Linked DNA regions of Homo sapiens: region 2 is linked to region 1. Evidence: fine-mapped expression QTL. A gene starts in region 1. The other region holds a variant in brackets. All regions are shown on one strand. Distances are from middle to middle. Region 1 holds the start of GLIPR2 (GLI pathogenesis related 2). Region 2 overlaps GLIPR2 (GLI pathogenesis related 2).

Region 1 (2,900 bases):
AATGGTAAAAATTTGCATATATAAACAGATGTAAACATAGAAACATAGTAAAAATATGGTATCATAATCTCTTGGGACTACCACAGTATATGTGGTCTGGCATTGACTGAAATGTCATTACTCATGACGGTACTAAAATACAGTAGGTGTATTTGCCTGACATGGGGAAAGGAATAGAGAGCACAGTGCCCAGCCATCGCCCTGCGGGACATTCGTAAGCCGTTGGTATTACAAATTCTAGCCTTATCATCAGTGGGTCAGCTCACTTCAGTGCCCATTCATTGAAAAGCCTTAAAATTCGCTTCCTTCATTTGGGGTGTACTGAGCCCCTTCCCCAGAAAGGAGCGCTTGCGGGAAGTCTGGCACAGGTGACTAGGGCTGTGCGGTCAAGTAAGTGCACTTCTCCCACGGGGCAGGGGCCATGGGTGGGACCACATCTCCCCAGTACCTGGTGTGTGCTGCTCCCAGGGTCAGGGCACCTGGCAGTTGGAAAGACCGGCCGACCCCGAGGGATGGGCAGCACTGGAATGGTGGCTCCAGGGCCAGCACTCCCGGAGGAGGGACCGCCTGAGGAAAGGCAGGGAGGTGGGAAATCCCAGAACATGTTTGGGGAATGACAAGACATCTAGTTTGACTGGAGTATGGGGAAAAGGTGGGGCGTTGGGGAGACAGGTCTGGGGCCAGACTGCAGGGGTGGGAATTGGCTTGGTCTGGGAGGCAATGAGGGGCGAGTGGACGGGTCAGAGGCGGCGGCGCTTCCACCCCGACTGGCATTAGAGGGCGTGTCCTAGGAGAGGAGCATCCCCCTCCCCGGACCAGCCGCCCTCCGGAGCCCAGAGTCACCGGAGATGGGGGCACACCCCGGGGCTGCGTGTGTCGTGTCAGGCCGCGGCAGGGAGAGGCCGTCCCCTGGTGGCGCCGGCCGGAACGCCCCTCGTGCCGCGACCGCGCGCCCCTCTGTCCTCGCCGCGCGTCGGCGCAGAGCAGCCACCCGGGGCCCAGCAGGCGCGGGCTTCCCCACGCGCCCCGGGAAGGGACAGCTCGGTGTGGGGTCCGGGAGGCTTGAGCCCCGCGGCCGCATCCGGGGAGCCCTCGGCAGTCGCGGAGCTGCTTCCCAGGGGTGAGCTCTCCGGGAGGCCCACGGGGTGGCCCCGGGCGCCTCCGCCCTCAGCTGTCGCTCCTTATAAGGCGGGGGCCGGGCGGCGCCGGAGGAGGGGCCGCGGCATCAGCCCGGTCCTGGGCTCTGGGGCGGCGCTGGGCCGGGCGAGCGCAGTGCAGCGCAGCCGCGGGGAGCGAGGAGCGCGCGGAGCCGGCCATGGGCAAGTCAGGTGAGCCCGCGGGCTCGCCCGCTGCGGAATGGTTCGGAACCCCGCGCTCCCGGACCTCGCCGTCTCCCTCGTCCGCCGCAAGCCAGGTCCTGGGGAGTGCGGGAGCCCGGGGTGCGGGTGGAGGGCGCGCGGGCGGAGCGCCCCGGCGCGGTTTCCGGGGAACCCGGGGGGAAGGCGAGCCCGAGGGAGGCCCCCGCCGGAGAGCCGGGGATCGCGCCAAGTTGGGCTTCCCGACCCTGAGGGGCTGCGCGCCGCGGCCCGCCAAGGCGTGGCTTCTGCTTTGTTTCAGGAGGCCAGACTTAGAGTTGGAAAAGTCACCAAAGTGTGACAACAGCTCTCGCTGCGAAGCAGTTTGCCCCGCTCGGCTGTCCCGAGGACAGCCCTGAGCATCCCCCTCATCCATTTGTTGTTCCTTCTCTCCTGAGCGCCCGCGCCGTGCCGGGCTCCCCCTGTGCTAGGCTCGGTCTGGCTCCCTTTCTCCTGGGGCACCCCATCCTCTCTACTGTGGCTGTCGGGATGAACTTTCTGCAGCGCAGCTCTCCTCCTGTCGCTCCCTAACACCTTCCTCACCATTGTCCTCAGAGTGAAAGGACACACTCCAGTCCTGCCTTCGGGCCCCTGGGAGTGGGTCCCTAGCCCTTACCTCCGCCCTACACTAGAGCTGTCCAGAAGCTGGTGCACAGGTCCCTTCCCCTAGGTTTCCTTGCCGGGCCTTCACCACCCCAACTCTCAGCCTGAAAATCCCATCCCTCTAGGCTCAGCTCCTGGGCTGGAGCCCATCTGTGATTCCCCCCGGGAGGGAGCGCCCAACCTGGTGTTTTCCTCGCTGCAGCCCTTCCTGTAGTGGGCCGGGGACAAGAGTTCAGCCATAGACCTGTTTCCCACCGGGTCCTCACCCCTGGCTGCCAGGGGCCGTGTTTATCTCAGCATTGCTTCTGCCTCACAGGAGGCTCTTAGAGAACAGCTGTTGAACAGGATTCAGAAGTCCTGCTTCATCCGGATTGTCCACTTCAGATGAGTAAGGCTAGGTCCCTTCTAGGATCTGTCCTCCAAGATCTGGACTCAGGAGATGCCAGCGCTGGGCGCAAGTGGCTTTCCCTGGCCTTGGTCCTAACCAGCCTTCCTAGGCTGTAGAGGCAGGTCTGGCTTTCAGCCCTGGCCCAGCCAATCACTGGCTGTGTGATACTGAGCAAGCCTCCTTCCCTCTGTTCCTCCCTGTCTGTACAATGAGGGTGGCCGTATGAGCCCTGGGGTTCTTCACAGTATGGAAAGGTGATATAATGGGTTGCCATTTAGTTAACAGGATGACAGATGGTGATGGAGCAAAAGTATGGCAGATGAGAGCGAGTCTTTCGAGATATCTGCTTGGGAAATCAACTCCTTTCTCTGTAGAAATTTGTGGAGAAAATCCACAAATTCCCTTAGGCTACTTTTTTTTTTTCTTTCTTTCTGAGACGTGGTCTCCTTCTGTTGCCCAGGCTGGAGTGCAGTGGTGCGATCTCGGCTCACTGCAACCTCCGCCTCCCAGGTTCAAGTCATTCTCCTGCCTCAGCCTCCTGAGTAGCTGGGATT
Region 2 (2,900 bases), 27 kb after region 1:
AACGTCCTGCCGCCGAAGAAGTAACTTGTTAAATGTAATGGGAAGGTGGCAGACTTAAGAACGTGGATATGAAGTGCCTAGAACCACCACAACCTGGCTGTGCGTCTGTCCCTGTGGGTGTATGTGCTTGTGTGTGTGATGCATGTGAGCGTCTCTGGCACACACACTTGGACATACAGTTCTGTGTGCGCTCATTCTTATTACAGGAGTGAGCAAAGGAAGCATTTACCCCGATGGTTACCTAGACCACGATTATTTGGATTGGGGGGAGGGGGGATCCGTTTTTTTTTTTTAATTTTTTGTTATTTCTAAGCAAACCTCTTTTGTACTTTTCTTACTTCTAATATCCATCCCTGGACTTTTTGTATTCCAAATGTTTGTGATGCTGAGAAGTGAAGTTCATTTTATGTGATCTTCATGCGTCGTAATCTACTTTTGGTAGATAATTAAGATTATTAAACCCTCATTTAAATGTGACATAAAATACAGCTTTAAGCACATAAATACAAAGCAGCTTCCATCAGGAACATGGAGCAGGCAGGGACTCCATTTTACAGAATTACTGAGATTTCTCAGTTGTAAAACATGATGTCATCCTGCATGCCTCCTGGAATTCTCCAATGGGGTCGCCAAACAACAAATGGAGAAAAAAAGTTTTACTTCCTTGCATTCTTCTACCTTTAAATAGCAAAGTACCACTACCACCACCACCTCTTGCCCCCTTCCCTCTTTTCTTAAACTTCTGGCATTTCAGAGCTCAGCAGGCTACCCCTGGTTTCTGGAGAGTTGGGCTAGGCCTGAAGCTCCCCCTCCCCCACCTCTGCTAGGCAGCCCAGGCCTGGTCTGGGAGACAGCCCCTCACCCTGCCTGGGCTCTTGGCCAAGCGGCCTTGGATGGATGAAGTCAGAGAGGTGGGGTGAGGGTGAGCTTACTCAGGGCCCCCAGAGGAAGCCCTCAGCCTCTGCCCTCCCCCCACACAGGGCGGGAGCCCAGGCCTGTTCCTGGCAGCTGTGGCTGCAGCTGTGCTCCTGCTCCCTCCTGGAATGTGCGACAAGCCCAAATGTTCCGGGGAGGCGGCCGGGGCAGGGGGCTTAGAAGTGCTAATATGGTTCTGTGTTTTGCCTGAAACGATACCAGGTTCCCCTGAATAGCAACTTTACAAGGTCCATGTGGGAGGGACCAACCCAGATGCCCTGCTGAGTGTCCCTGAAACCATGGCAGCTCCATCTGTCAAGATGGCAGGGGCCGGAGTGAGGGGGCTGCTGGCTTAACAGCAGGCATCTGGGCAGGCCAGTCCTCAAAGCAGCTCCTGAAGGTCTGTGTTGCACTGTCACCAGTCTCAAGCTATGCCTCTAATTTCACCAGGGATATTGACTAAGAAGACAATAAAATCTTTTTCTTTGTGTAATAACCTCCTCCAATGTGATTCATACTT[C/T]ATTCTCCATGGCTGAGACAATCCGTGACTCTGAATCCCTCTCTCGATTAACCCCAGAATACCTGCAACCCATTCCCCGTGGACTGTGTTGCTTAAGTGGCCAAGTTTTAAGCCATCTGACCCACCAGCACAGAGCTGATTGGACTAGAGTGGACACTGGATCCAACGGCAGCCAATCACCAGGCTGGCCATGGACTGGGAATTTCAGCTAAGAATTATGGAGAGAATTTACCAGTGGAACTGAAAAAAATAAGGATGCCATAAATTGGAATTAGGGCCATGGCAAACCAAAGCTACTTGCAAGCCAAGTTATGAATAGGAAATACACAGAAGCGAAGAAGCCAGTTATTGGAGGTACAAAAGAGGAGGAGATGCTGAGAATATTCTTGAATGTTCCTGAGTTTTCTAGCTCCAGCCCAAATCTGTATATCTTTAAAATATGCCCCTCATTTTCCTCAGGGCTTCCAAACAAACTGATATACCAGCCGATAGTCCCCAAAGATTAGAATCATACCATCTCTTCCTAACGGGAGACACCATGAACAGAAAATGTGGCGCCTGGTAGGAAGCTGACGGTGGGTGAAAAGACCCTGCTGAGATCCTTTTCTGGCCCCACCTGGCAAGCTGCCAGCCAATGAACTTCTTGGTGGCTCCTCGGGTCACCCCCCCCACCCCCATACACACACACACACACACACACACAACCAGGTGGTGGAAGCCAGCATGCAGCCAGCCTCTATGGGCTGGAGTTTGTTTCCACAGTTGGCTGGATTGAGGAAAAAGCTGGACCGGGGAGCTTTCCTGGGCTAAAGAAATGCCAGACAGCAAAGCTGGCTGAGCAGGTGGGCACTAATCTCACTTTTAAGGATTTCTTGAAGATGGCAAGCCTCACAATCCAAAAAGAACAAGGACAAACCAAACCGCGGCTCTCCTTTGTAGCCAGAGGGCAGAGGAAGAAGACAGCTCTCTGGTGCAAGCCTCTTCCTCTCCCTGGGCTTCAATTTATCCACCTGTACGAGGTCTGTCACATGGAGTTAGGTCTATCAGTTCTCTCAGGTCCCCATGACACCTCCAGACCCAACTTAATGCTGGAAGTGTCTGATGAGAGAGCTCATTCCTGCCTTGGTGCTCTGGGAGCTGAAACAAAAACAAACAGGCATGGCCACCTCCTCCACTGAAATGCTCCCAAGGCTGAAGCTTGCAGGTGGGAGGGCAGGGGAGAGGACAAAGGAGGTGTGAAGCAGCAGGGCCTGACCCACCCACCCCCTGCTCCCGGGTGAAGATGTCCCAGGAGGCGAGATCTGCCAGCCTGCATGTCCATGGGAGCCAGAAGGTGTCTGGCATCAGCACCAAGAGGCCTCATCATTCACCCAAGTTGCTGCTGCTGCTTTGCAGAAGGTAAGGGCTGAAGAGGCATTAAGGGCTTAATTATTCTCCCAGGGAGACTGGTCTCCGGAGGAGGAGG

What was found. PIP is the estimated chance that this variant, and not a neighbour inherited with it, causes the effect.
Region 2: its variant is fine-mapped to the expression of GLIPR2 in whole blood (TOPMed, PIP above 0.99).

What each region holds. Positions count from the first base shown.
Region 1 is chr9:36,135,464-36,138,363 of GRCh38, forward strand. GLIPR2 (GLI pathogenesis related 2) reads left to right here and starts at 1,270. Exons shown (of 5, transcript NM_022343.4): 1 at 1,270-1,328. The coding sequence starts at 1,316. RefSeq lists silencers at 922-1,491, 1,522-1,571.
Region 2 is chr9:36,162,499-36,165,398 of GRCh38, forward strand. GLIPR2 (GLI pathogenesis related 2) reads left to right here. Exons shown (of 5, transcript NM_022343.4): 5 at 1-1,408. The coding sequence ends at 24. Among named protein-coding and RNA genes, the nearest start is that of CCIN, 5.4 kb to the right of the region's middle. RefSeq lists an enhancer at 1-414. The variant C/T (reference allele first, on the strand shown) is at 1,436.